Regions from separate parts of the Homo sapiens genome. Here region 2 is linked to region 1. Evidence: fine-mapped expression QTL. A gene starts in region 1. The other region holds a variant in brackets. All regions are shown on one strand. Distances are between the middles of the regions.

Region 1 (15,401 bases):
ACCTCTTTTTCTTCCCAGTCTTGGGTATGTCTTTATCAGCAGCATGAAAACAGACTAATACAGTAAATTGGTACCAGTAGAGTGGGGTGTTGCTGAAAAGATACCCAAAAATGTGGAAGCGACTTTGGAACTGGGTTAACAGGGAGAGGATGGAACAGTTTGGAGGGCTCAGAAGAAGACAGGAAAATGCGGGAAAGTTTGGAACCTCCTAGAGACTTGTTGAATGGCTTTGACAAAAATGCTGTTAGTGATATGAACAATAAGGTCCAGGCTGAGGTGGTCTCAGATGGAGATGAGGAACTTGTTGGGAACTGAAGCAAAGGTGACTCTTGTTATGTTTTGGCAAAAAGACTGGCAGCATTTTGCCCCTGCCCTAGAAATTTGTGGAACTTTGAACTTGAGAGAGATAATTTAGGGTATCTGGCAGAAGAAAAGACGCAGTACTAAAGAAAAAAACCATTTTTTTGAGAAGAAATTCAAGGCAGCTGCAGAAATTTGCATAAGTAGCAAGGAACCTAGTGTTAGCCCCTAAGACCATGGGGAAAATGTCTCCAGGCCATGTCAGAAGCCTTCATAGCAGCCCCTCCCATCACAGGCCTGGAGGCCCAGGAGGAAAAAGTTATTTTGTGGGCCAGGCCCAGGGTCCCCATGCTGTGTGCAGCCTAGGGACTTAGTGCCCTGTGTCCCAGCCGCTCCCACTGTGGCTGAGAGGGGCCAATGCAGGGCTCGGGCCGTGGCTTCAGAGGGTGGAAGCCCCAAGCCTTGGCAGCTTCCACATGGTGTTGAGCCTGCAGATGCACAGAAGGCAAGAACTGAGGTTCGGGAACCTCCGTCTAGACTTCAGAAGATGTATGGAAACGCCTGGATGTCCAGGCAAAAGTTTGCTGCAAGGGCAGGGCCCTCATGGAGAACCTCTGCTAGTGTAGTACAGAAGGGACATGTGGGGTTGGAGCCCCCACACAGAGTCCCCACTGGAACACTGCCTAGTGGAGCTATGAGAAAAAGGTCACCATTCTCCAGACCCCAGAATGGTAGATCCACTGGTAGCTTGCACCGTGCGCCTGGAAAAGCCACAGACACTCAATGCCAGTCCGTGAAGGGAGCCAGGAGGGAGGCTGTACACTGTAATGTCTGTCAGCTCACCCCTTTTTATATTCAAGTTATTGGTTATGGTTATTGGTTTATATGCCCAGTTATTGGTTATGCTTCACACAAGATGAGGAAATCAGGGCTGCCATAAGGGCAGCTTGGAAAATCACCAAAGGCAAAGTCTATGTAGGTGGAGTGAGTCAGGACTGTTTGTTTGCTTTGTTTTTGGCAGAGAAAATGGGGGTTTCACTTAGATAGAATCTGGGGCCCAAAGCAATTACATTAGTTATGGAAACTGTTCCAAGAGCATAGACAGGAAGCAAAAATGCTAGAAATTGTCCTCAATGTGCATGCATTATAGACATTCTGTCCCTTCCTTTTCTGGATTTGACAGTCTCAGATGACTCCCTTGGTTACTTACATCCCAAAGAGAGATCTTGGTTTACTGTACTATACACACAGAGAATGTTCTCTCATTCTGTACCACTCAAAGTTAGTGTGTGGTCTTCAAGACAAACTCCTCTCCATGTCCCAAAACATGGAGGCTAAACTCACCTCCTAAAGAATTCCCAGAAGTATAACCTAAGTCATGAGATGTTCTCGGCCAAGGAAGCACCCACAGGCAGGGGGGAGATCTCTCAAATTTGATGGAGAATAGAAATTACAGTAAGAACTCCTCAAACAGAAGCAGAATCTCACCAAACATACTTCACAGGAGCAGTCCAAGAGTAAATGCAACAAAAATGAAACCACAAAGTCACCTAAAAGGAAATTATTTGACTAATTACAATAGAACTAATACCCAGAAGCTCATTCTCCTTGATTAAGTGAATTTCTTTTAGTCTAAAAAGATAGAGAATAACTCCTCAGAGAGGCTATGGTAGCAGATTACACCTGACTCATTCCCCATTTGAAGAATCACTTTTCCATTTCCCTCTAAGGTGCAAAGGAGGTAAAGCAAAGATAGACACAAAGTCATGGGAGCCACAAGACTCTTGTCCTGCCACTGAGCTAGCTAAGCAATCTAGCTCTCGACTTAAGGCAGAAAATTCAATGAGTAGGTAGCAGCCAGTGTTGGAAGCAGTCCAGGATGGTAGCACCAATGACAAGATTAAGGTCAGAGACCTCGTGATGCCCCGCTAGCCACCACGATTTTTCTGTTGCCTTCTGTTCATCCCACGTAGATACTATCTGGAAGCCCCCTCCCCAAAATGAAAACAACTGGAATTCTACGGCTTGCCCAAAATGCATAGAACACTCATATCTGGTTAAAACCATAGAAATCAAAAAGAAAAAGTGAAATGGCTATGAAGTATTTGCAAGGCCAATTTCACTTACTACTTGTTGGGAGTTGGAAACACTCAACAGTAAAATATCTAGGGATAATTACAACCCTTATGTAACACAAGTAAATCTTTCCCTTTTTTGTCACTTAGAGAAGCAACATAAATACATCTAGGACCAGGCCAGGGTAGTAATCAGAAAGAAAAATCTGTATTAGACATATTGAGGTCTTGACAGAGAAGTACTTCGTTTGTTTAGCCGTAGTTTTCCCTCAAGATCATGCGAAGGGGGTGATGTTGAAGACTGCTGGAGACTAAACTGTGTGTGTTGGAGGAAAGGGGGAAAGCTCAGCTCTCCCTATTTCTCCTCCAACTATTTGGTAAGACTCGGTGATAGAAAAACATCTCCTATACGAATGGCCTTGGTATGAACAGCCGCTTGGGATGACAGGCCACTATCCCACTACCCCTTGAGTCTTTCTGAGCTGCTCACCTGGTGCCAGAGAACTGGCAGATAAGTTTCTGCAGCTTTGCTCACTGCCATGAGGGGGGCTAGACATCACACTTTGGGTGAGGGGTAAACAAATCCAGAGATTGTAGGGCAACATAAGTTACCAACTGGCAGTTGCACCCATGACTGTCTTTCCTGAGGCGCTGAGTAGTGATTTAGCCAGATGACAGAAATACCTTTCGAGTCCCCTGCCCAGTTGTCTCCATCCACCACCCCCAGCCCCCGCCCTCTCCGAGTCTCCACTATACCAAAACCAGAATGAGGCGCCACTCAGACGAGAGGAGAGGGTGCAATGATTGTGGGACCCCTGCGCCCCTGCCCCGCCCGTGGGGTGCTAGCTGTGGCTGGTGCGAGAATGGGGTGCTGGCCCCCCTCCCTGGGGGTGGCCCGGTCCGGAAGCGGCGCGCGGTGGTAGTTCCCCGCGTTGCTGCAGCTGCTGCATTGCGCCATTTTCCGTCCCGCAGAATCGGGAGCTTGGGGCGAGAGTTGTCAAGGAGGTGCCGAGCCCCCACACCAGAGTCAACTCACATTTTTCTGACAGAGAGAGTGAGGGTCTGTTCCTCTCCGGAGGCTGCGGCGAGACACCCGGTGAGGGACGCTGCGGCTGAAGTGGACGGAACTGCCAAGCTCCGCCTCGCGCCGACTACCCCGCGGTCTAGCTGCGCTGGAACTTACTGCAGCTGCCGCGCCGGCCTCCGCCTTTATTAGTGCTGACCACGCCTCCCGGATAACGGTGACAACCCCGCGGCCCAATCCATGCCCAGGACGGTCGCCCAGCGCTACAGGCCTAGCCCGCCCCGCCCCTGCCAATTGCCAGTCACAACTCTCCTCTCATCCGACTCCGGAAAGGAGCGGTTGCTGTGAGGATCCTTCAGTGATCAATGCGACCATAGTTTGCGCTCCAGTCTGGCGGAGGGACGGGGCGGGGTGGAGATGAGGTCTGTCCCTTCGGAGGGCGCTTCAGCAGTTTGTTAGGCATTTGTGGTGCCTCCCAACCAATCGCTAGGCAGTTACTGAAGACCGTGCCCGCCCCTGCCCCACCCCGCGCCGGGACTCGCGCATTCAGCTGGAGGCGGCGGCTTCCTGGTGCGCGCCCAGCCCTGGTGCCCTGCTCTGGCCCTCGCTCCGCACCACCGCCCCGCCTCTAACTAACGCTCTGAGAGGGTGCAGGAGCCTCGAGACACAGCCACAAGCTCCTGGTGCCAGATACCGGATGCGGGGTTCCGTCCCACCAAAGCAAGCACGAAGCTTTCGTTCATTCGTTTCTTTCAACATAGCCTTCCTAAATTGAACTCCCTCCCAAACCTGCTCCAGTCGAGGTTACCACATCGACTCAGTTGCCCAGACCAGAAACGTGGAAACCATCCTAGATTTCCTCCCCTTCACCTTTACCTCTCCCCCAGTAATCTGCCAAATCGAGTTGATTTTTCCTTCTTGGCATTCCAGTGATTATCTCCCCTCTGCTCACTATTATCCCTTTCCTGGACTCCATCAGTTGGAAAATTCACCATTATTTTATGTCCCGCTAAGAAAAAAGGTTACAAGGCCGGGCGCAGTGGCTCACACCTGTAATCCCAGCACTTTGGGAGGCCGAGTCAGGCAGATTACCTGAGATCAGGAGTTCGAGACCAGCCTGGCCAACATGGCGAAACCTCTGTCTCTACTAAAAATACAAAACAGCCAGGCATGGTGGCGGGCGCCTGTAATCCCAGCTACTCGTGAGGCTGAGATAAGAGAATCGCTTGAAGCCGGGAGCCGACGGTTGCAGTGAGCCGAGATCACGCCACTGCACTCCAGCCTGGGCAACAGAGCAAGACCCTGTTTCAAAAAAAAAAAGAAAAAAGGTTGCAAATTATCTGTGACAAATGCTTTCCTTACCACTTAGCATTTTTGTTTTACATGTATTGAAAATATGGGTTTATATACATACCGATTTCTATATTTCACTCTTGTGCATGCATAAAAAGGGAAATAGAAAACAATAACATGGTAACTATCCCTAAAACTTCACAGAGACTGATTGTTAATGATTCACTTTTTTGACTCAGTCTTGGATGTCCACTAATTTCCACGCAATGTAGTCCTCTGTGCATTTCATAAGGGCTTTGGTGATGCAGCATTTCCTAAGAGTGTTCCTCTCCAGGCTCTAGAGTTTTCTTCCAAGCCTCAGACACCCATTTGGCAAGCTTTGATGCTCATGAGCAGGTATGACAAATATAGTTTGACTGCTGTCTGACTAATAGCTAAAGTGAAACATCCCAATTAGAAGATATTGAAATGCAAAAAAACAAACAAACAAGCACACACAAAAAACCCAAGTGCCTCCTAAGATCAATGATACATCATTCTGCTTCCAGTCTTGCCATCCTTTACATCTATTCTCTAAAAAGTCCACCAAAGTTATCTATCCAAATGTCACAAGTCTTCTTAAGGAAACAATTGCACTTGGAAACATAATGCATTCATCATATGTGTTTATCCCATTCTCCTCCTGAAACCACATCAAAATGGCAAGTTAGGGGGAAAAATGACAATTTGGGAAAATTTGCAAAAAATTATAAGCCCCCAAAGACAAAAAGAATGGGGCCGGGCGTGGTGGCTCACTCCCGTAGTCCCAGCTATTTGGGGGGCTGAGGCGGAAGGACAGCTTGAGCCCAGATGTTCCGGTTGCAGTGAGCCGAGATCACGCCACTGCACTCCCACCTGGGTGACAAAATGAGACCCTATCTCCAAAAGAAAAGAAAAAGGGCCAGGCGCAGTAACTCACACCTGTAATCCCAGCAATGTGGGAGGCCAAGGAGGGCGGATCACTTGAAGCCAGGAGTTCAAGACCAACCTGGCTAACGCAGCAAAATCCCGTCTCTACTAAAAATACAAAAATTAGCTGGGCATGGACGCCTGTAGTCCCAGCTACTCGGGAGACTGAGGCAGGAGGATCACTTGAACCCGGGAGGCGGAGGCTGCAGTAAGCCGAGATCTTGCCACTGCACTCCAACCTGGGCAACAGAATGAGACTGTCTCAAAAAAAAAAAAAAAAAGAAAGAAAGAAAGAAAAAGAAAAGAAAAAAGAATGGGAGGAAATATTTCTGGCAGCATGAATGCCTATTTATTCCCACCAACTTTCCCCTGAAAAAAAACTTAAAATCATTGAATGGTGACTCACGCCTATAATCCCAGCATTTTGGGAGGCCAAAGCAGGAGGATCACTTGAGCCCAGGAGTTCAAGACTAGCCTGGACAACATGGTGAAATCCTGTCTCTACAAGAAATAGATACAAAAAAATATAGCTGGGTATTGTGGCACACACCTGTAGTTCCAACTACTTGGGAGGCTGAGGTGGGAGGATTACCTGAGCCTGAGGAGGTCAAGAAAGCAGTGAGCCATGATCACACCATTGCACTCCAACCTGGGCAACAGAGTGAGACCCTGTCTCAAAAAAACGGGGTTGAGGGGGTGGCATTTTTTAAACTTTTTTTTTTTTTTTTTGAGACGGAGTCTCCCTCTGTCGCCCACGCTGGAGTGCAGTGGCGCTATCTCGGTTCACTGCAAGCCCCACCTCCTGGGTTCACGCCATTCTCCTGCCTCAGCCTCCTGAGTAGCTGGGACTACAGGCACCCGCCACCACGCCCGGCTAATTTTTTGTATTTTTAGTAGAGACAGGGTTTCACAGTGTTAGCCAGGATGGTCTCGATCTCCTGACCTCATGATCCACCCGCCTCGGCTTCCCAAAGTGCTGGGATTACAGGCGTGAGCCACCGCGCCCGGCCTTAAACTTTTTATTTTAAAGTAATTATAGATTCATATAAGGTGGCCAAAAAAAAAAAATACAATACAGGGAGGTTCCCCTAAACCCCTTTACCCAGTTCCCCCAACAGTAACATCTTGTATAAATACAGTTTAAAATTATTAAAATATTAAAACCAGGAAATTATCATTAGCAAAATCCAGAGTTTATTCAAATTTCACCGATTTTCCAAACTGGCATGTACCACCAAACACTTCTTTTTGTGTTCGTGTGTGTTTGAGTGGTTTTATGCAATTGTATCATGTGTAGATTTGTGTAACCACAACCACAGTTAGGATACAGCATTTTCACATTACTGCAAGGCTCCCATGTGCTACCCCTTTATATTCCAACCCACCGCCATCCCTAAACCTTAGCAACACTAATTTGTTCTCCATCTCTGTAACTTTATTTCAAGAGCCTTATGTAAATGTAGTCATGCTTTTTTCTATATCACGTAACCTTTCAAGATTGGCTTTTTTCATTCATCCAAGTTATTGTGTGTATCATTACTTTTTCAACCATCCAAGTTATTGTGTGTATCATTAGTTTTCACCACTGATTAATATTCCGTGGTACATTTAACCATTTACCTGCTGAAGGACATTTGGAGTGATTTCAGCACTGGGCTATTACAAATAAAGTTGCTGTGAACTTTCATACAGGTTTTGTGTGAACATAAATTCTCATTTCTCTGGGATAAATGCCTGAGTGCAATGCTTGGGCAGTAAGGTAATTGCATCTCTAGTTTTATAAGAAACTGCCTTTGCCTGTGTTGCCCAGGCTGGTCTTAAACTCCTGAGCTCAAGCAATTCTCCCACTTCAGCTTCCCAAGTAGCTAGGACTATAGGCATCATGCCCAGCTGTATTTTTCTTATTTTAACCATTCTAATATGTGTTCAGTGCTATCATTGTGGTTTTAATTCTTATTTCACTGATGGCTAATGATATCAAATATCTTTTAAAGTGTTTGCCTTGTATATATTATCCTATTTGATGAAATGTTGGTTCATGTCTTTTGGCCATTTTCTTTTTTTTTTTATTGATCATTCTTGGGTGTTTCTCGCAGAGGGGAATTTGGCAGGGTCATAGGACAATAGTGGAGGGAAGGTCAGCAGATAAACAAGTGAACAAAGGTCTCTGGTTTTCCTAGGCAGAGGACCCTGCGGCCTTCCGCAGTGTTTGTGTCCCTGGGTACTTGAGATTAGGAAGTGGTGATGACTCTTAAGGAGCATGCTGCCTTCAAGCATCTGTTTAACAAAGCACATCTTGCACCGCCCTTAATCCATTTAACCCTGAGTGGACACAGCACAGGCCGCAGAGAGCACAGGGCTGGGGGCAAGGTCACAGCTCAACAGCATCCCAAGGCAGAAGAACCCCTCCCAGTACAGAACAAAATGAAGTCTCCCAAGTCTACTTCTTTCTACACAGACACAGCAACAATCTGATTTCTCTATCTTTTCCCCACCTTTCCCCCTTTTCTATTCCACAAAACCGCCATCGTCATAATGGCCCGTTCTCAATGAGTTGTTGGGTACACCTCCCAGACGGGGTGGTGGCCGGGTAGAGGGGCTCCTCACTTCCCAGAAGGGGTGGCCGGGCAGAGGCGACCCCCACCTCCCTCCCGGACGGGGCGGCTGGCCGGGCGGGGGCTGACCCCCCACCTCCCTCCCGGACGGGGTGGCTGCCAGGCAGAGACGCTCCTCACCTCCTAGACGGGGTCACGGGCGGGCAGAGGCGCTCCCCACATCTCAGACGATGGGCGGCCGGGCAGAGACGCTCCTCACTTCCTAGACGGGATGGCGGCCGGGAAGAGGTGCTCCTCACTTCCCAGACTGGGCAGCCGGGCAGAGGGGCTCCTCACATCCCAGATGATGGGCGGCCAGGCGGAGACGCTCCTCACTTCTCAGACAGGGTGGCTGCCGGGCGGAGGGGCTCCTCACTTCTCAGATGGGGCAGCTGCCGGGCGGAGGGGCTCCTCACTTCTCAGACGGGGCAGCCAGGCAGAGACGCTCCTCACCTCCTAGACGGGGTCACGGCCAGGCAGAGGCGCTCCCCAAATCTCAGACGATGGGCGGCCGGGCAGAGACGCTCCTCACTTCCTAGACGGGATGGCGGCCGGGAAGAGGTGCTCCTCACTTCCCAGACTGGGCAGCCGGGCAGAGGGGCTCCTCACATCCCAGACGATGGGCGGCCAGGCGGAGACGCTCCTCACTTCCCAGACGGGGTGGCGGCTGGGCAGAGGCTGCAATCTCGGCACTTTGGGAGGCCAAGGCAGGCGGCTGGGAGGTGGAGGTTGTAGCTAGCCGAGATCATGCCACTGCACTCCAGCCTGGGCAACATTGAGCACTGAGTGAACAAGACTTGGTCTGCAATCCCGGCACCTCGCGAGGCCTTCTGAGTAGCTGGTACTACGGGCGCCTGCCACCATGCCTGGCTAATTTTTGTATTTTTAGTAGAGACGGGGTTTCACCATATTGGCCAGGCTGATCTCGAACTCCTGACCTCAGATGATCTGCCAGCCTCAGCCTCCCAAAGTGCGGGATTACAGGCGCGAGTCTTGTATTTCTTTTAAAATCAATCTCACACACACCCTTTTTTCTCCCTCTCCCTCACATATCCTGTTTTCTCTTTTTAGACATCGGACTATTAATTAGATATTGGACTATTTGGCTTAATTTTCTAATTATCTTTCTTATTTCCTGTCTCCATCTCTGCTGGTTCTTGTTCTTGGTGCCTTGTTCCTTATTTGTTTGGAATTTTTGACCACAATTTATTTTTCTTGGAACTGTATCTGTGGAAATTCCCCGAGGCCTAGATTAAAGATGAGTTCATCCAGAAAGGATCTGCATTGCTTCTGCTGGGTTCTTGGTGGTACTGTCAATCCAAAACCACTTTAAATTCTTGCCATTTTCTTTTTAGGATCAACAAAGAGTTCAGGCAGAAACACCACAGCCTGTGGTTATACATTCTCTGCAAATACTTAAAAGAAAAAAATAAAAGAACTCCAGCAGGCACCTGGGTTCCAGACAAACAACATTCCACGGAGTGCTCTGGGGCAGTTTGGGTTCTAGTATATTCGTAATTCATTCTTAGATGAGGATATAGTCCTTTGGGGTTCTGACTTTATGGTAAGGACTTTCTATTAGATTTCCAACCTTGGGTAAGCCCTGGGCTTTATTTCCTGTGCCACAGTGGTAGCCTGTGAGGCTGCTACGCTCATATTAAACTTTATAGCAAATACCCTCAGAGCAAAATAGTCTTTGGGACTCAGCAACTTCCCTGGTTACTGGCTTTCACTTAGTTTTTCGTGTTTAAATAGTCTTTACTCTCAGGCCAACTCATAAATAGATTTTATCTATAGAAGAACAAAGAAGAATAAAATAGGAGGAATAACTATCTCATGCTTACTACTATATAGTTGCAGTAATCAAGACAGTGTGGTATTGGTGGGAGGACAGACACATAGATCGATGGCACCGATGAGAGAATGCAGAAATAGACCCCTACAAATATGCGCATCTGATTTTTTTTTTTTTTTTTTTGAGACAGAGTCTTGCTCTGTCGCCAGGCTGGAGTGCAGTCATGCAATCTCGGCTCACTGCAACCTCTGCCTCCCAGGTTCAAGCGATTCTCCTGCCTCAGCCGACCAAGTAGCTGGGACTACAGGCGTGCGCCACCACGCCCAGCTAATTTTTTGTATTTTTAGTAGAGACGGGGTTTCACCGTGTTGGCCAGGATAGTCTGGATCTCTTGACCTCGTGATTCGACTGCCTTGGCCTCCCAAAGTGCTGGGATTACAGGCGTGAACCACCATGCCTGGCCTTCTGTATTTTTTAAGATTCCTATCTGGAGAGCCCCCAGCTCTGCGGCGGCTTCACCCGCGAGTCCCAAGGCAAGCGAGCGGCTGGGTCGCCCCCACCGGCCCCATGGCAGCCCCCGGGGCCCCAGCTGAGTACGGCTACATCCGGACCATCTTGGGCCAGCAGATCCTGGGACAACTGGACAGCTCCAGCCTGGCGCTGCCCTCTGAGGCCAAGCTGAAGCTGGCTGGGAGCAGCGGCCGCGGCAGCCAGTCAAGAGCCTGCGGATCCAGGAGCAGGTGCAGCAGATCCTCGCCCGGAAGGGCCGCAGCTCCGTGGGCAACGGAAATCTTCACCGAACCAGCAGTGTTCCTGAGTATGTCTACAACCTACACTTGGTTGAAAATGATTTTGTTGGAGGCCGTTCCCCTGTTCCTAAAACCTATTACATGCTAAAGGCTGGCACAACTGCCACTTATGAAGGTCGCTGGGGAAGAGGAACAGCACAGTACAGCTCCCAGAAGTCCGTGGAAGAAAGGTATTTGAGGCATCCTCTGAGGAGACTGGAGATTTCTCCTGACAGCAGCCCGGAGAGGGCTCACTACACGCACAGCGATTACCAGTACAGCCAGAGAAGCCAGGCTGGGCACACCCTGCACCACCAAGAAAGCAGGCGGGCCGCCTTCCTGGTGCCACCGAGATATGATCGTTCTGAGATCGCGGGGGTCCGCCGTACTGGCACCACAAGCAGGCAGCACCACTTTGACACCACAGGCAGTACCAGCGTGGCTCTGTTAGTGACACCGTTTTTGACAGCATCCCTGCCAACCCGGCCCTGCTCACGTACCCCAGGCCAGGGACCAGCCGCAGCATGGGCAACCTCTTGGAGAAAGAGAACTACCTGAGGGCAGGGCTCACCGTCGGCCAGGTCAGGCCGCTGGTGCCCCTGCGGCCCCTCACTCAGAACAGGGCTTCCAGGTCCTCCTGGCACCGGAGCTCCTTCCACAGCACCCGCACACCGAGGAAAGCTGGGCCCAGTGTTGCCGTGGATTCCAGCGGGAGGAGAGCGCACTTGACCGTCGGCCAGGCAGCGGCAGGGGGAAGTGGGAATCTTCTCACCCAGAGAAGCACTGACTCCCAGCTGGGGAATGCAGACATGGAGATGACTCTGGAGCGAGCAGGGAGTATGCTCGATGCAGACCAGATGCCGCCGTCCAGGATTTCTGCCGCAGCCACTTTCATACAGCACGAGTGCTTCCAGAAATCTGAAGCTGGGAAGAGGGTTAACCAGTTTTGTGGCATCCCCAAGCTTCTGCAGCTCCTAAAAGTTCAGAATGAAGATGTTCAGCGAGCTGTGTGGGGGGCCTTGAGAAACTTACTATTTGAAGACAATGACAACAAATTGGAGGTGGCTGAACTAAATGGGGTAACTCGGCTGCTCCAGGTGCTGAAGCAAACCAGAGTCTTGGAGACTAAAAAACAACTAACAGGTTTGCTGTGGAATTTGTCATCTAATGACAAACTCAAGAATCTCATGATAACAGAAGCATTGCTTATGCTGACCGAGAATATAATCATCTCCTTTTCTGGATGGCCTGAAGGAGACTACCCAAAAGCGAATGGTTTGCTCGATTTTGACACAGTCTACAACCCACTGGATGTCTAAGAAACATGAGTGCTGCTGGCCCTGATAGGAGAAAAGCAATGAGAAGATGTGACCGACTCATTGACTCACTGGTCCATTATGTCAGAGGAACCATTGCGGATTACCAGCCAGATGACAAGGCCACGGAGAATTGTGTGCACATTCTTCATAACCTCTCCTACCAGCTGGAGGTAGAGCTCCCAGAGAAATATTCCCAGAATATCTATATTCAAAACCCAAATGTCCAGACTAACAACAAAAGTATTGGATGTTTTGGCAGTCGAAGCAGGAAACTAAAAGAGCAATACTAGGACATGCCGATGCCAGAGGAAAAGAGCAACCCCAAGGGCGTGGAGTGGCTGTGACACTCCATTGTGATAAGGATGTATCTGTCCTTGATCGCCAAGAGTGTCCCAAACTACACACAGGAAGCCTCCTTAGGCGCTCTCCAGAACCTCACAGCCGGAAGTGGACCAATGCCGACATCAGTGGCTCAGACAGTCGTCCAGAAGGAAAATGGCCTGCAGCACACCCGAAAGATGGTGCATGTCAGTGACCCAAGTGTGAAAAAGACAGCCAACTTGCTGCTGAGGAATCTGTCCCAGAATCTTTCTCTGCAGAATAAAATTGCCAAAGAAACTCTCCCCAGTTTGGTCTCCATCATTCCTGATACAGTCCCGAGTACTGACCTTCTCATTGAAACTACAGCCTCTGCCTGTTACATGTTGAACAACGTAATCCAAAACAGTTACCAGAATGCACAGCGCCTTCCGAATACCGGGGGCATCCAGAAAATTATGACCATCAGTGCAGGCGATGCCTATGCCTCCAACAAAGCAAGTAAAGCTGCTTCCATCCTCCTGTATTCTCTGTAGGCACACACGGAACTCCATCATGCCTACAAGAAGGCTCAGTTTAAGAAGACAGATTTTGTCAACAGCTGGACTGTCAAAGCCTACCACTCCCTTAAAGACTGAGGAAAATGACGAAGTATTCTCAGCTGCAAAAAAATCCCACAGGAAAACACCTATTTTTCTACTACCCAGCCCAAGAAACCTCAAAAGCATGCCTCGTTTCTATCATTTTCTATTTCCATGGTCCCCCGAATCCAGAAAACAAGTACAACATAATCTTATGAGTCTTCCAGAAGACTTTTGCAAGCTTGCCACCAGTAGATACTGGTCACAGGCTCTACAAATAGTGGTCTTTGTTATTAGGGCTTATGGTGCATGGCCTCCTGGAACCAAAATGTGAATTCATGTGGAATGGACTTTGATCCAATAAATAAGGAAAGAAGTTGTTGCATTACTGGGATTTTAAAAGCTTGATTTACATTTATATTCCTTTTCTAGTTCCCATGTTTTGTCACTCATGTGCACATTGCTTCACCATTGGGCCATGAGTATATTGTTCTGTAGTGTTGAAACAGAATGGAAATGACAAGAAATATCTGCAGTTATCCAGGAGAAAGTATAATGGCAAAATTATTTGTTTCTTTGTTTACTTTGTGCTCGTTTTTATCTCCTTAGGTTTTTTTCCTCTGATTTTTAAATAAACTTAAGAAATTTAGATTACAGAGTATGCATGACTGTAAGAAAAAGAAATTGAGAGGAAGTGATCATAGCAAATTAAAGAAACCTTTTTCTCCCAAAACTTAAAGTAAAATAAATAAAAATAAAAATAAATCTTTTCCCCAGAGAAAGGCAACTGTGATTATAAAGTTTAACCTTCCCCCAAACACTGAATGAATGAGATTTTTGCTCCGGAAATACTTTACCTATAACAACACCATTAAATCCAAATCTCTTCTAAACAATGGCATTCCGTGTAATGCCTTTCCTGGACATTTTTTTTTTTTTTTTTTTTTAGACGGAGCTCAGGCTGGAGTGCAGTGGTGCAATCTTGGCTCACTGCAACCTCCGCCTCCCTGGTTCAAGTGATTCTCCTGCCTCAGCCTCCTGAGTAGCTGGGATTACAGGCGTGCACCACCACGCCTGGCTAATTTTTTTGTATTTTTAGTAGAGACAGGGTTTCACCATGTTGGTCAGGCTGGTCTTGAACTCCTGACCTCATGATCCGCCCGGCTCAGCCTCCCAAAGTGCTGGGATTATAGGTGTGAGCCACCGCACCGGGCCTTCTGTATTTTTTAGGCCACTGCCCTGGACTAGTGGAAGAATGGACTCTAGTCTTTATCTGCAAGAGGAACTAAGGCCTTCTATCAGACTGCCCGGCCAGCCTGGGGCACTGAAAATACAGCTCATTTTAATGAGTTACATTATCAACCAGCTTTGCCCAGCATTTAAGAAATATCACAGGGCCACTAAATCTCATATGATCTTCTTCAAGCCATTATTTTAATTCAAGAAAACTCTAGAGAAAAAAGTGAAGAAGTCATGTTGAAGAAGATATAAGAATGTGTCAAGACCATACAGAAATGATATGAGAAATACTGGTGTTTTAAAAGGTGACATCATCCAGTGAAATGAATCTATATTAAATGTTATTTTAACTGCATTATGATTAAAACCATTCATATAGAGTTAGTCTTCACAACTACTATTCTGTTATATTTTGTTTTTTTTTTTTTAAATCTGACAACGTTTGTCATAAGTAAGATAAGGAAAAAAACTCTTCAACTCCTTTTGGCCAGAAAAGTGTAATAGAAAATAAATGTTGAATATGTACTTAAGTCTTTATTATATTTGAAACTTAAATTTTTTTTCAGTTTTAAAAGCTGAATGAAGATAGCTTAGGTAACTAACCTAGTTCAAAATGAAATTTAGATACCAATTTTTAAAATACTGGAGAGAATTTATATGTCTTTTTCCAGAGTTCTGATAATAAGCATTTGGAGTGCATTCATTCCTCCAGATAATAAATGTATGTTCAAGAACTTTTTGTGTTTTTTAAGACATTAATAGAGTCTTCAATAATATTAAATACAAAAGGAGACAAAAAAAAAAAAGATTCCTATCTGGACTGGGCACGGTGGCTCACGCTTGTAATCCCAGCACTTTGGAAGTCCGAGGTGGGCAGATCACGAGGTCAGGAGTTGGAGACCAGCCTGACCAACATGGTGAAACCCTGTCTCTACTAAAATACAAAAAATTAATCGGGCGTGGTGGCACGCACCTGTAGTCCCAGCTACTCGGGAGGCTGAGGCAGGGGAATCACTTGAACCCGGGAGGCGGAGGTTGCAGTGAGCCTAGATCATGTCATTGCACTCCAGCCTGGGGGACAGAGTGAGACTCCGTCTAAAAAAAAAAAAAATTCCTGTCTGTTTTAG
Region 2 (15,888 bases), 50 kb before region 1:
AGTGTGTGGGGGAAACTCCCTCTAACTGTGTTTTTCCTCTACTCTCACACTGCAACATTCAACATAGAAGAAGACTTCTATAGCCAAATGTGTTGCAGGGGGTTCCCTACACACCAAGTGGCAGACACCAGCTGGCTGTCCTCTAATTCAGTTCCCACACTGTCTTCCCGACGCTGTCTCCCACAGCTTGAGGGCTTAGTCCGCAAGACTGCCCCCTGTCACACCAGTCACAAGCCCAAGCCTCTGGAACTTCTGATCAACTGGCTTCAAGTTGGGGTTCCCATGACCCCCTCTTTGGGTTCGACTAATTTGCTGAAGCAGCTCACAGAACTCAGGGAACTTACTTATGTTTATAGGTTTATTATAAAGGATATTGCAGAGGATACAGGTGAAGAGATGCACAGGGTGAAGTATGGGAAAACGGGCATGGAGCTTCCATGCCCTCCCCGGGGGCATCACCCTCCAGGAGCCTCCACATGCTCAGCTACCCAGAAGCTCTCTGCACCCAGTCATCTTGGGTTTTTATGGACGCTTCAAGACATCAGCATTCCTTCTCCCAGGGTATAGGGTGGGACCCTCTCACTGGAAGGTATTTAGACCCACAATCAGAAAGGAGGGGGAACATTAGAGTCCTGCCTTGGAACAGGTAAAAAGAGGGCAGGAGGTCAGAGGCCTGCCCCTGAGGCCCAACGCACCCAACATTATAACAAAAGACTGTAACAGGGGCTTTTGGGGTTATGAGCCAGGAACCGTGGATGATATCCAATATACATCATAACACCGCAGCAAGTTTAAAATGTTACAGCTACTTTGGAAAACTCTTTAGGATTGCTTATAAAGCTAAATATACACTTACTCTATGACCAAGCTATTCTACTCCTAGGTATTTATCCAAGAGACAGAAAAACAAATATCCAAAATACTTGTATAAGAATGTTCACAGCAGATTTTATTTATAATAGTCAAAAACTGGAAACAACCCAAATGTCCATCAACAGGTGACTGGATAAATTAATTGTGGTCTATTCATACAATAGTGACCTACTATATTCCGCTGTAGTAACACACAGGTACACACAATGACATGGCTGAATCTCAAAACATTATGTTGGGCAAAAGAAGTTAGATAAAAATAAGCCACGGCTGGGCGTGGTGGCTCAAGCCTATAACCCCAGCACTTTGGGAGGCCAAGGCAGGCAGATCACTGGAGGTCAGGAGTTCAAGACCAGCCTGGCCAACATGGTGAAACCCCATCTCTACTAAAAATACAAAAAATTAGCTGGGCATAGTGGCAGACACCTGTAAGGCAGGGATCCCTTAGGATCCCTGTAAGGAGCTGAGGCAGGAGGATCCCTTGAGCCTGGGAGGCAGAATTTGCAGTGAGCTGAGATCACGCTACTGCACTCAAGCCTGGGTAACAAAGTGAGACTGTCTCAAAAAAAAAAAAAAGAAAAATAATTCACAGACCATCCTTGTAACTAAATCTTTGCACACATTTTATTTCCTTAGGATAGACTCCTAGAAGTGGAAATGCTAAGTCAAAGAGTGTGAGCACTTTTAAAGCCTTTGAAACCTATGAGAACGTTGGCTTTGAGGCTAGACAGACCTGACCTTGAATTCCTGGCTTATGGCGTGTGGCCTTGAGCCCACCACTTCCGGGTACTGTGCGTGTGCCCAGTACTCCTCCTTGTCCCTCTATTTGGCTACTTATCACATTCTACTTTATTATCACTATTAATCCATGGGTCTTGCATATTATAAACCCCTAGTTATAAACCCCTGAGGGCAAGGCCTATGCATATTCATCCCCGCATCCTGCCCAGCACCCAGCACAGAGCTCAGCGTCCAGGCCAGGGGCAGTTGGTGCTACAGGAAGAGTAACGGCCAGGAAGGAAGGCATCCAGGTTCCATTCCCAACCTGCCCACTACACACGGTCATAGAAAAGCCTCTCATGACCTGGCCCCATTACCTGGGCAAACTCATCACCTCTCACTCTGTTCTTCAGCAGTTCTGAACTTGTGCTTCTCAAGAACTAGTAGATCCCAGAACACACCTTACTTTTTTACATTTGCATGCCCTCACCCACTTCTCAAGACTGGTAGCCCATATTGTGCCTTTGTGGAAATTAGGAAAAGGTGCCACATCCCCCTCGTGAGGCTAGATTCCAGACCCCACTCATCCCTTGACTGGCACCATACTGCCCTGACCAACCTGCATACTATTTCAACATAGCCTGGAGCAAACACGCTGGTCCACCCAGCAAACCCCTCCTCATCCATCAAGCCACAGCTCAGCTGCTACCGCCTCCGTGAAGTCATCTTCAGATACCCTCACAGGTTTCGCTGGTTTCTCTGCTAAGCTTCCACTGCTTTTTAAACAGCCTCCATTAAAACAATTATCTTTTTCGAATCGTGGCTTTTGGCCAGGTGCGTGGCTCATGCTTGTGATCCCAGCACTTTGGGAGGTTGGGACGGGCAGATCACTTGAGCCCAGGAGTTCGAGACCAGCCTGGGCAACATGGCAGAACGCCATCTCTACCAAAAATACAAAAAATTAGCCAGGCGTGGTGGTGCACTTGGTCCCAGCTACTCAGAAGGCTGAAGTGGGAGGATCGCTTGAGCCCAAGAGGCAGAGGATGCAGTGAGCCAAGATCTTGCCACTGCTCTCCAGCCTTGGTGACAGAATGAGACCCCCATCTCAAAAAAAAAAAAAAAAAAGGAATTGTGGTTTCCCCTACATATCTCCTTACCTCATGAGATTATCCTCAATGTATTTTCATCTTTTATTTCTTTTCCTTTTTTTTTTTTTTTTTTTTGAGACAGTCTCACTCTGTTGCCCAGGCTGGAGTGCAGTGGCGCAATCTCGGCTCACTGCAACCTCCGTCTCCCGGGTTCAAGGGATTCTCCTGCCTCAGTCTCCTGAGTAGCTGGGATTACAGGCATGCACCACCACGCCCGGCTAATGTTTGTATTTTTAGTAGAGACGGGGTTTCACCGTGTTGGTCAGGCTGGTCTCCAACTCCTGACCTTGTGATCCGCCTGCCTCGGCCTCCCAAAGTGCTGGGATTACAGGCGTGGGCCACTGCGCCCGGCCCTCTTTTATTTCTTATACAAAGCCCAGTTCCTAACACATAGGAAGTGATTGATAAACTTGTTGAAAGAATGAGGGACAGTTTTCCTCTCTAGCTTTCATGTTGCTTGTCTGAGAATAAAGGAATCAGAACAAGATGCCTGAAGTTCCTGCCAACTCTAAAATACTCTTTTCCAGTATGCATTAAGTAAATATTAGTTAAGTAAATAAGCAATACCCACCAAAAGAAAATCCCTTTAAAGGTGTGTCTTGAAAGAACATGAATCAATTTGTTTGAGTTTTCTTCTAGAAGCAGTTTGGTATGAGTTTTTGGAAGCTCTTAAATGTTTTGCCTTGCCTCTGGAAACTTTCAGAGACCATCTGAGATCAGCCAAAAATAGAGTTTAAGAAGAATTGCTTTAGGAAATCCTTCCAAAGAGTGTCTTGTCTTTCATCTCATTCAGATTCCTCAAATTAGGCAATTTGGAGACAATCTCTGTCTTGAAATTATGTAAATTACCCATCTCTGTTATTTGTCTTTCTCGGATATTTTCAAAAAAGAAACGTCTGTTTCTTGACACAAGGCAACTCTTTACGCATCTTTGAGGCTAACGCTAACGTTACTTCTCTGATGAGAAGAAATTTTACCCTGTGTCCTTTCTTCCTCTCCAGAGAGGCTGTCCTTAAGTGGACATTGTCAACCTCCTCAGAGAGTAGCAATTCTGTTTGAGGGCTTCAAGCCCCTGAGAAACTAATAGGACCAGAGATCTAGAAGTGGAACTTTTACAAACCATATGGGCTCATGCATCCCCAAAGTTCACAAACTCCTTAAAATTCTATTCACAATATCGTATGCATGCGTGCACTATTTTTTTTGTTGTTGTTGTTTGTTTGTTTGTTTGTTTGAGATGGAGTCTTGCTCTGTCGCCCAGGCTGGAGTGCAGTGGTGTGATCTCTGCTCACCGCAACCTCTGCCTCCTGGGTTCAAGCGATTCTCCTGCCTCAGCCTCCCCAGTATCTGGGATTACAGGTGCTTGCCACCATGCCCGGCTTATTTTTGTACTTTTAGTAGAGATGGGTTTTTGCCATGTTGGCCAGGCTGGTCTCGAACTCATGGCCTCAAGTGATCCGCCTGCCTCAGCCTCCCAAAGTGCTGGGATTACAGGTGTGAGCCACCACACCCAGCCTGCATGTGCATTTTCCTTCCCTCCTTCCTTCCTTCCTTCCTTCTTTCTTTCTTTCTTTCTTTCTTTTTTTTGAGATGGAGTCTTACTCTGTCACCCAGGCTGGAGTGCGGTGGCGCGATCTTGACTCACTGCAACCTCTGCCTCCCAGGTTCAAGCGATTCTCCTGTCTCAGCCTCCCGAGTAGCTGGAATCACAGGCGCCTGCCACTACACCTGGCTAATTTTTTTTTTTTTTTTTTTTTTTTTTTTTTTTTTTGAGACGGAGTCTCGCTCTGTCGCTCAGGCTGGAGTGCAGTGGCGTGATCTTGGCTCACTGCAAACTCCGCCTCCCGGGTTCACACCATTCTCCTGCCTCAGCCTCCCGAGTAGCTGGGACTATAGGCGCCCGCCACCACGCCCAGCTAATTTTTAATAGAGACAAGATTTCACCATGTTGGCCAGACTGGTCTTGAACTCCTGACCTCAGGTAATCCACTCACCTTGGCCTCCCAAAGTGCTGGGAATACAGGCGTGAGCCACCGCACCCAGCCACAGGAGCTTTTATGTTCAGATCATAACCAGGCGTGGTGGCTCACTCATGTAACCCTAGAACTTTGGGAGGCTGAAGTGGGAAGATTGCTTGAGGCCAGGGGAGTTGGAACCAGCATGGGCAACATAGCAAGACTCTGTCCCTATTTTAATTTTTTAATTTTATTTATTTATTTATTTATTTATTTTGAGACAGATTCTTGCTCTGTTGCCCATGCTGGAGTGCAATGCCATGATCTCAGCTCACTGCAACCTCTGCCTCCCGGGTTTAAGCGATTCTCCTGCCTCAGCCTGCCAAGTAGCTGGGATTACAGGCACGTGCCAACGCATCCAGCTAATTTTTGTATTTTTAGTAGAGACAGGTTTCACCATGTTGACCAGGATGGTCTCGATCTCCTGACCTCGTGATCCGCATGCCTCGGCCTCCCAAAGTGCTGGGATTACAGGTGTGAGCCACCGCACCCGGCCCCTATTTTAATTTTAAAAAGAAAACAAGATCAGGTCATACTTTGGTGCATTCTTTTTTTCTTTCTTTCTTTTTTTTTTTATTTGAGATGGAGTCTCGCTCTATCACCCAAGCTGGAGTGCAGTGCTGCAATCTCGGCTCACTGCAACCTCTGCCTTCCGGGTTCAAGCGATTCTCCTGCCTCAGCCTCCCGAGTAGCTGGGACTATAGGCACTTGCCACCATGCCCAGCTAATTTTTGTATTTTTAGTAAAGATGGGGTTTCACCATGTTGGCTAGGATGGTCTCAATCTCTTGACCTCGTGATCCGCCAGCCTCAGCCTCCCAAAGTATTGGGATTACAGGCGTGAGCCACCACGCCCAGCCTTTGGTATATTCTTTTAGGTTATGTTAAAGATAGATTCTTCAAGTCACAGATAGGAGTACTTGGGATCACCCCTCTGCCCCCACCAGTGGCCCTCCCTTAGGGGGTTCCTCAAATTCTTTGAACTTGCTGAAACCCAGCCTGCTGTGCTGACACAAGAGAAGCCCTGGGAGGATACCCGACGCCTGGCACCTCTGCCCTTATGTCCCTTTTTTTTCTGTTAGAATCCCATTTTGTTTTCTTTTTATAGATGTAGGGAGTACAGTGCAGTTTTGTTACATGGATATATTGAGTAGTGGTGGAGTCTGGGCTTTTAGTATAACCACGATCCGAATAGTGTACATTGTACCCATTGGGAAATTTCTCATCCCTCACCCACCTCCCACCCTCCCACCTTTCCAAATCTCCAATGTCTACTATTGCACTCTCTGTGTCCATGTGCACACATTATTTAGCTCCCACTTATAAATGAGAACATGCAGTATTTGACTCTGTCTCTGAATTATTTCACTTAAGGTAATGGCCTCTAAGGGTTCCATCCACATTGCTGCAAAAGATGTAATTTCATTCTTTTTAATGGCTGAGTAGTATTCCATGGTATAAATATGCCACATTTTCTTTATACAATCATCCATTGGTGGGCCCCTAGGTTGATTCCATATCCCTGCTCTTGTAAACAGTGCTGCGATAAACGTATCTTCAAAATAACAGCCTTGAAGCCCTAATTGGGCTCCTGAGAGGGCCACGTGAGACAGTGTGAAGAGCGAAATCACTATTCTGCCACAAGAGGGCACCCAAAGCCCAGACAGATGGGACGACGCGCTTCCTGCCTCCATTGGAATCAAGCGCATGACTGGATAGCAGAGGCTCCTTGGGCAGGGAGCCACAGCTTGAAGGTCCCAGTTATGCAACTGGCCCCAAGGCCCTTCTACCCCTTCCCCAGGGGACTTCACCAGCTCCTTTTAGGACAGAGTTTGTGTATGGTTCTTGCTGGCTTCAGTCCCTCCCGTAGAGGTGACCCTGAGTAGCTGGGATTACAGGTGCCAGCATATGCACCTGTAATCCCTCCTCCCTGGGGAAAATCTCTGCCCTGGATGGGTAAGATCCTGACCCTGCGTGAACGTGGCATGCGCTTCTGTTCTCCACTCCCTGGAGTTCCTCCTGAGGCCGTGCAGGATCCTGTCCAGTGCTCACAGGCATGAGCATGACTTCAGGGTTGTGAGCAGAGCCCTGCAGAGGTATGCATATGGCTATGGAGTGGTGACCTACTCGGACAGAAAGAATAAGGAAAGGATCCAGTAGCCAGGCCAAAAGGAAGAGGCACCAAGAAGGGCTGCAGCTTGAGGGTGGAGATTCCAGACTTCCAGATACTCTAGTGGGGGTACGATTTGGACCCAGGAGGCAGGTTGCAAATCTAAACCCATCAGAAGCATATGGACTCTTCTTTTGATTAGTTGTCAATGCGAAAAAATTTTTTTAATTTTTAAAAAGGGTATAGACTTAGACAAACTCAGAACTATTAAATTTATAATGTAGTTTGAAACATTTAAGGGAACATTGTACTAAACTGAGAACTATATAGATGTACGCAGGCCCAAGTCTGGCTTCCTAGCCTCAAATCTGGCAAATAAATAAGGTTAGCCTTCCTGAGACGGTAATCACAGATCACGGTCATACACTGCCCACTTGAGTAAAACCGTTCCCCTTGGGGACGAGTGTTCTTTTAACCCCAAGAAGGTTTGGAATCAATCTTTATGATGGCTTTTACCCTCTCAACTTAGCTAAGACGAAACCATATTTCTTGGAAATTAATCCCTGTATGGTTCTGGGTGAGGGTTGGCCACAAGAGAAATGTAAGATTTGAGAGGTAGGAAAACAGAATAGGAGCGGCCGTCGTGCTCTGAGGCCAGCATGGGGTGACAGTCATCTGCTGGCTCACCTTGTCTGCACGGATGGCAGCCAGACTGGCAGCTCTTCCAGCTCCCGTCAGATCGCCTCCTTCAGCTTCTCTAATTCTTGGCCACACAAGTGCAACTCCGTGGCAAGGAGTGCTAGGTCCTTCTGCAGACACCCATACCATCGGGGTGGGTGGTGGTGAGGCACAGACGCAGGCTCCGGATGGCCTTTGCCCTGCCCCCACTTCACATCCAGTGCTTCTCCCAACTGACCCATAGTGACCTCAGGTCCACCACAGATACGGAGGCCTCCAAAGACTCCTTCCCCAGCTGCCATGATTGATTAAGGTCTAATCTCTAAAATAAGTTCCTTATTCCATAACACTCATAGTGGTTTTGACTCTCTGGTCAAACCTTAACTGATAAAAATCAAAAGTGATGAAGCAAATCAAACTCATGCTAAGTTTCAAACAGGTTTTAACCACTGCATGCATTTGGTACTTAAAGTTTTTGTAATGCTTAAAAGAATCTGACATATATTAATACTTAAATAGGAAATGCATGAAACTACAGAAAAAAAAATTAAAAAAATTTTAAACAATTTGACATAGAAGTATTATAGATTAGCCTCATTATTATATTAATATTTAAAATGTATAATTGCCGGGCATGGTGGCTCATGCCTGTAATCCTAGCACTTTGGAAGACTGAGGCGGGCAGATCGCTTTGAGCCCAGGAGTTCAAGACCAGCCTGGACAACCTGGTGAAACCCTGTCCCTAGTAAAAATGCAAAAACTAGCTGGGCTTCATGGCGTGCGCCTGTAGTTCCAGCTACTCGGGAGGCTGAGGTGGGAGGACTGCTTGAGGCGAGGAGTTCGAGGCTACAGTGAGCCGTGATCACACCACTACACTCTAGCCTGGGCAACAGAGCCAGACCCTGTCTCACAAAACAAAA[G/C]AAACAAACAAACCACACAAACTTGCAACATCCTGCTTCTTGCAGCTCTCCCCATCCGGCCCACCCCATTCCTTTGGCGTGAAAATATGATGGGGTCTCCTCAGCCCTAGAAGCACCCACACCGTTCAACCTAAAGCTCCCACTGACTAGCTGAGCTCTCATAAAGGTGAGATTTGTCGCATACGCCTCCCATACACCTCTTCCTAGTAGATTTCTTCACTCTTTCCCTTCCATTCTGAGCACGGCCCCACTTAAGGAACTCTCAGCTCTCATGTTGCCCTATCCCAGTCAAGAAGGAAGTTGCTGGTGATCAAGTCATACTCCAGTGAACACTGACTGGCACCTCTTCTGCATCAAGTCCTAGCAGGGCATTCACCCGAGTTACCAAACATGGCTGCTCACACCCGCCCTCCGAGGCCAGCATCTGCATCCCCATGTGACAGTGGAAACAAACCCACGGAGCCTGAGCAACTGGGCAGCCAGCAAGTGACTGAGCAGAGAGACGGCCTTGGACGCAGGCCAAGCAGCACAGATTTACTCGAATCATCCTCCGCTCCTTCAGATTTTCACCAGCTGATTGATCCTTGGACTTCCCCCCCAGGCTTCTCTGACATCACCAGCCACCAGGACCCTGCCTATGCCTGTGGCCTGCAACATTCCTCTATGCACATCAAAGTAGGGAGCATCAGGCCGGGTGCGGTGGCTCACACCTGTAATCCTAGCACAATGAAAGACCGAGGTGGGCAGATAACTTGAGACCAGGAGTTCAAGACCAGCCTGGCCAACACGGCGAAACCCCATCTCTACTAAAAATACAAAACAATTAAGCAGGGATGATGGTGTGTGCCTGGGGTCCCAGCTACTTGGGAGGCTGAGGCATGAGAATTGTTTGAACCCGAACCCAAGGCTGAGGCAGAAGTTGCAGTGAGCCAAGATCGCGCCACTGCACTCCAGCCTGGGTGAGAGAACTCCAGCCTGGGTGACAGAGGGAGGCTCCATCTCCCAAAAAACAAAACAAAACAAACAAACAAAAAAAACAAGTAGACAGCATCAATTCTGGCCAACTTATGGGTAAAAGAGAAGGCTGCCACAGCCCTTGCCCTTTGGGAGTGCCTGTCCCTTCAGTAGCTGCCCCAAAAATCCTGCAGAAGAGAAGGGTCAGAGGAAGCACCTGTAATAAAGGGTGAGGCCCCACCAACCCACTCTCTTCCTCTCCTCTCCTAGCCGAGGGAGCCATCAGAGGCAAAGGGAGTGTGGGAAAGATTAGTCAGACATGTTTCCCTTTGTGTCACAGAGTCAAACTCTCCATCCGTGACTTCAGAAAAGTCACAAGAGAGCCCCAGCAACGGCCCACAGGGTGTCATAGCAACACGCCTACACCTCAAGGTGCCACCTTCCAACTCTGGAGAAAACAACTGCCTTCTTCAAATGTCAACTGCTACATGGGCAAAGAGCAACTTGAAAATGAAATTCGGGGCTGGGCGCAGTGGCTCACACCTGTAATCATTTTGAGAGTCCAAGGCGGGTGGATCACTTGAGCCCAGGAGTTCCAGACCAGCCTGGGCAACATGGCAAAACCACATGTCTTCAAAAAAATACAAAAAGTAGACAGGCATGATGGCATGCACCTGTAGTCCCAGCTACTCGGGAGGCTGAAGTGGGAGGATCACTTGAACCCGGGAAGTGCAGGCTGCAGTGAGCCGAGGTTGCACCACTGCACTCCCCACTCAGTCTGGGTGACAGAGCGAGACACTGTCTAAAAAAAAAAAAAGAAGAAGAAAAAAAGAAAGAAAGAAAATGAAATTGAAATTAGGGGCCGGGCACAGTGGCTCATGCTTGTAATCCTAGCACTTTGGGAGGCCGAGGCAGGCGGGATCACCTGAGGTCAGGAGTTTGAGACCAGCCTAACCATGATGGTAAAACCCAGTCTCTACTAAAAACACAAAATTAGCTGGGCATGTGTGGCGCATGCCTGTAATCCCAGCTATTCAGGAGGCTGAGGCAGGAGAATCACTTGAACCCAGGAGGTGGAGATTGCAATGAGCCGAGACTGCGCCATTGCACTCCAGCCTGGGCAACAAGAGCGAAACTCCATCTCAAAAAAAAAAAAAAATGAAATTAGGAAAAACAACTCAATTTACAATAGCATCAAAAAGAATAAATACTTAGGCATACATTGGCCAGGTGCGGTGGCTCACATCTGTAATTCCCACATTTTGGGAGGCCAAGGCAGGCGGATCACCTGAGGTCAAGAGTTCGAGACCAGACTGGCCGACATGATAAAACCCTGTCTCTACTAAAAATACAAAAAATTAGCCAGGCGTGGTGGCAGGCACCTATAATCCCAGCTACTCGGGAGGCTGAGGCTGCAGAATCGCTTGAACCTGGGAAGCAGAGGCTGCAGTGAGCTGAGATTGGGCCGCTGCACTCCAGCCTGGACAACAGAGTGAGACTCTGTCTCGAGAAAAAAAAAAAAAAACTTGGTATACATTTAACAAAGAAAGTGCAAGACTCATACACTGAAAACTAGAAAACATTGTTGAAAGACATTAAAGAAATCCTAAATAAATGGAAAGACATCTGTGTTCATGGACTGAAGGTAACAATATTTCCCAATTTCATCTACAGACTCTATGCAATCCCCATCGAAATTCTAACTGCCTTCTTTTTTGCATAAATGGACAAGCTGATCTTAAAATTCACATGCAAATGCAAGGGACACAGAGTAGCCAAAATAATTTTGAAAAAGAAGAACGAAGTTGAAGTCCCAATTTCGAAACTTACTATAAAGCTACAGTAATCAAAACCATGGTATTGACCTAAAGACAGACATACAGATCAATGGAATACAATTTAGAGTCCAGAAATCAACCCATACATCTATTGTCAATTAATTTCAGCAAGGGTGCCAAGACCATTCTGTGTGAAAAGAATAGTCTTTTCAAGAAGCAGTGCTAGGACAACTGCATATCCACAAGTAAAAGAATGAAGTTGGACCCCTACCTAAAACCAGATAAAAAATTTAACTCAAAATAAATCAAAGAACTAAATTTAAGAGTTAAAACTATAAAACTCTTAGAGGGAAATATAAGTGAAAATCTGTATGAGTTTGGATTCGGCAACAGTTTCTCAAATATGATGCCAAAAGCACAGGCAACAAAAGAAACAGTAGATAAACTGGACTTCATCAAAATGTGAAACTTTTTTTTTTTTTTTTGAGACGGAGTCTCGCTCTGTCTCCCAGGCTGGAGTGCAGTGGCGTGATCTCTGCTCACTGCAAGCTCCGCCTCCTGGGTTCACGCCATTCTCCTGCCTCAGCCTCCCGAGTAGCTGGGACTACAGGCGCCCGCCACCACGCCCGGCTAATTTTTTGTATTTTTAAGAGACGGGGTTTCAGCATATTGGCCAGGCTGGTCTCCATCTCCTGACTTCGTGATCCGCCCGCCTTGGCCTCCCAAAGTGCTGGGATTACAGGCATGAGCCACCATGCCCGGCCCAAAATGTGAAATTTTTATGCATCAAAGGGCACTATTAAGAAGGTAAAAAGACAACCCACAGTATGGGATAAATTTTTTTTTTTTTTTTTCTGAGACGGAGTCTCGCTCTATCGCCCAGGCTGGAGTTCAGTTGTGCGATCTCGGCTCACTGCAAACTCTGCCTCCCGGGTTCCACACCATGCTCCTGCCTCAGCCTCCCGAGTAGCTGGGACTACAGGCGCCCGCCACAACGCCTGGCTAAATTTTTTTTTTTTTTTTTTTTAATTTTTAGTAGAGACGGGGTTTCACTGTGTTAGCCAGGATGGTCTCGATCTCCTGACCTCGTGATCTGCCCGCCTCGGCCTCCCAAAGTGCTGGAATTACAGGTGTGAGCCCCCGCCCCGGGCCAGAGAAAATATTTTCAAATCACTTATCTAGTAAGGTCTAGAATTCATAATATCAAAAAGAAAAAAAAAAAAACTCTTGCAACTCAGCAACAAAAGACACAAATAATTTAATTTAAACACGGGCAAAGGACTTGAACAGACATTTCTCCAAAGAAAATATACAAATGGCGATGAGCACATAAGAAGATTCTCAACATCATTAGTCTTAGTGAAATACAAATCAAAACCACAATAAGATACCACTTCACACCAACTAGGGTAGTTATAACTTTTTCAAAAATAGAAATGTATCTGTGATATTTGCACATCTTTGTGAATATAGTAAAAGCACTGAATTGCACATTTTTAAATGATGAAAATGATTCATTTTATCTCAGTAAAAGTCTAGCCACTGAATTGTACATTTTTAAATTATTAAAATGATTCATTTCATCTCAGTAAAAGTCAACAGGCACCAGGGATCCCTTCAGTTTGGGCTGGAGGTCAGTGCAGTTTGGGGGGTCATCAAATGCTGAAGCAGAAGGAGTTTAGGGGTCACGCAAGTCCCAGCTGCCGTGTGACAAGTGAGGTAAAGGACACACCCTCTGTGGAGGTCTGAAGTCCCCTGACATTAGTAAGGGAGGGACAGCAGAGATCTCCCCTGTCACCACGAGGCTTTTTTCAGCCCCCAGGGCAGATGGCAAGTGTATACCATGTTTGGCACCCCTGTGATTGGCAGAGGCAATGCAGGTTGGGTCTGGAGGACAAGATTGCTGTGGGGGAGAGCCAAGGGTGGACTTCAGAACACTGGTGGTGACATAAGGGTAAAAAGGCCTTGGTCACAAAAGAGGAAACACAAACAGCGCGATCATGGAAAGACGCTCAGCCTCCCCGGGAATGGGAAGAGTGCACACTGAAACAATGAGACAGCACTTTCCTCCAATGAGATGCTCAAAAACAGTTTGCTAATACGAAAGCCTGGCAGGACGTGAGGAAATATGTGCTATCATTCCACTGCTGGTGGGAGTGTGAATTGGTAGGGCCACTCTGGAGGGCAACTCGCCAGCATCTGTTAAAGTGAAAAATGTGCACACCCTGTGACTCAGCGATTCCGATGCCCCGCACTTATTCTAGAGAGACACTCCCACATGCACAGCGAAGTATGAGATGTTTATGCAACACCACTTACGATAGTGCATTGTTGGGAACAACCTAAGTATTCGGGAACCAGGAGAATGGCTAAAAAGCCTCTGCACATCCATTCTCTATTTAACGAAACGAGTAGTTCTAGAAGTATAAAATGAAATGATCTCCAAGACATATAACTGGATTAAAAGCACGAAAAGCAAATCGTAGGATACATACTGTATATCATTTATGGAAAGAACAAAACAAACACAAAAATACAACTGTGCTGGGGCCGATGGACAATTGTGCCTGGCAGGCTGAGTCATGAGGCCAGTTAACAAGCCTTTCTCTATCTGCAAAAAGAAGTACTTTAGAAAAGCAATATAAGAAGAACATGGACCAGGGGCAGTGGTTCATGCCTGTAATCTCAGCACTTTGAGAGGCTGGGGTGGAAGGATTTCTTGAGGCCAGGAATTTGAGACCAGCCTGAGAAACATAAAGAGACCCAGTCTCTACATAAAATTAAAAATCAGTCAGGCGTGGTAGTGTGCACCTCTGGTCCTAGATACTCTGGAGGCTGAGGTAGAAAGATCTCTTGAGCCCAGGAATTCGAGGCTACAGTGAGCCATGATTGTGCCACTGCACTCCAGCCTGGGTGAGTAAGCAAGGCTGTCTCTAAAACACAAAAAGAAGAAGAACATGGAACTGCCAGACTTGGGCTATTTCATTTCCCAGAGATAATTTTTTACCGAGTGGAGAGAAAATGGGTGGTTTGTTCCTTAGGCTCTATTTCTTGCTCTGTGCTAGAATTATCGCAGCTTTGTGTAAGATTTCCTTCAGCAAATATAGGTAGCCTGCGATGCCCCAAATAAGAAAGGAAAAGACAAAGTCAGATGTTACTGCTGTCGGTCATCTCAGGTATGAAAAAGAGAGGCAGGCCCCTTGCCAGGGAGAAGGAACAACCAGATGCTGTCCATGAGGCACTCTCCTACCTCTCCTAAGACAGGGGTCGCCCTTGCTCTGAAAAATTCAAGCAGAGAATCCTCAGGAGGAGTGGGGCCAAGAAATCAGAGTAAGAAATATTTGATTATTGCTTAATAACATTTTAAGTAGAAAATAAAATAATTTTTTAAAACAGGCTGGCCGGGCGTGGTGGCTCACGCCTGTAATCCCAGCACTTTGGGAGGCTGAGGCAGGTGGATCACGAGGTCAGGAGATCGAGACCATCCTGGCCAACATAGCAAAACCCCATCTCTACTAAAAATACAAAAATTAGCTGGGCATGGTGGCATGCACCTGTAATTCCAGCTACTCGGGAGGTTGATGCAGGAGAATCGCTTGAACCTGGGAGGCGGAGGTTGCGGTGAGGCAAGATCATGCTATTGCACTCCAACCTGGTGACAGAGCGAGACTCTGTCTCAAAACAAAAACAAAAACAAACAAACAAACAAACAGGCCGGGCATAGTGGCTTACGCCTATAATCCCAGCACTTCAGGAGGCCGAGATGGGCGGATCACCTGAGGTCAGGAGTTCAAGACCAGCCTGACCAACATGGTGAAACCCTATGTCTACTAAAATATAAAAATTAGCCAGATGTGGTGGGGGGCGCCTATAATCTCAGCTACTCGGGAGGCTGAGATGGGAGAATTGCTTGAACCCAGGAGGTGAAGGTTGCAGTGAGCCGAGATCATGCCATTGCACTCCAGCCTGGACAACAAGAGCGAGACTCCACCTCAAAAAATAAGAAGGAAAGAAAATAATTTTTAAAAACATAAACATATGCCTACCACAGTGGCTCATGCCTGTAATCTCAGCACTGTGGGAGGCTGAGACAGCTGGATCAATTGAGGTCAGGAGTTCAAGACCAGCCTGGCCAACATGGTGAAACCCCATCTCTACTAAAAATACAAAAATTAGCCGGGTGTGCACACCTGTGGTCCCAGCTGCTTGGGTGGCTGAGGCAGGAGAATCACTTGAACCCAGGAGGTGGAGACTGCAGTGAGCTGAGAATGTGCCACTGCACTCCAGCCTTGGCAACAGAGACTCTGTCAAAAAACAAAAACAAAAACAAAAAACAAAAAACACCCACAACAACACACATAACTTTTTTGTCTAGGAAAGTTCTGGAAGAATACTCAATAATCTGAAAACAGTGCCTACACTAAGGAGGTAGGGAGAGGACCAGGGATTGGGGGAGGAGATTGATCAAAGGGAACCTGAGTCTTCTCTATAATTTTCCATTTTTTTTCATTTTCACCTCCAATTTTTAAAATATAATTTGTACTTTTTATTGTGAACTAAGATATGTAAAATAGTACATAAAAATAACACATTGAAAACCCACGTTCAGATCAGAAGATTAGTAGAACCTTCGAAGCGCCCTGATCACACCTTCCCTCCTCACCGGGGGAAGCAGCTCTGGCTTGTGTCTATC

The links.
Region 2: its variant is fine-mapped to the expression of VAMP1 in whole blood (TOPMed, PIP above 0.99).

The regions. Positions count from the first base shown.
Region 1 is chr12:6,467,119-6,482,519 of GRCh38, forward strand. It overlaps VAMP1 (vesicle associated membrane protein 1), which reads right to left and starts at 3,559. Exons shown (of 5, transcript NM_014231.5): 1 at 3,412-3,559. The coding sequence starts at 3,413. It also overlaps a transcript of TAPBPL not described here and the pseudogene PKP2P1. RefSeq lists silencers at 3,041-3,090, 3,591-3,640, 3,851-4,110.
Region 2 is chr12:6,417,320-6,433,207 of GRCh38, forward strand. No RefSeq gene overlaps it. Among named protein-coding and RNA genes, the nearest start is that of CD27, 20 kb to the right of the region's middle. RefSeq lists enhancers at 6,148-6,197, 9,509-9,618, 9,659-9,898. The variant G/C (reference allele first, on the strand shown) is at 8,464.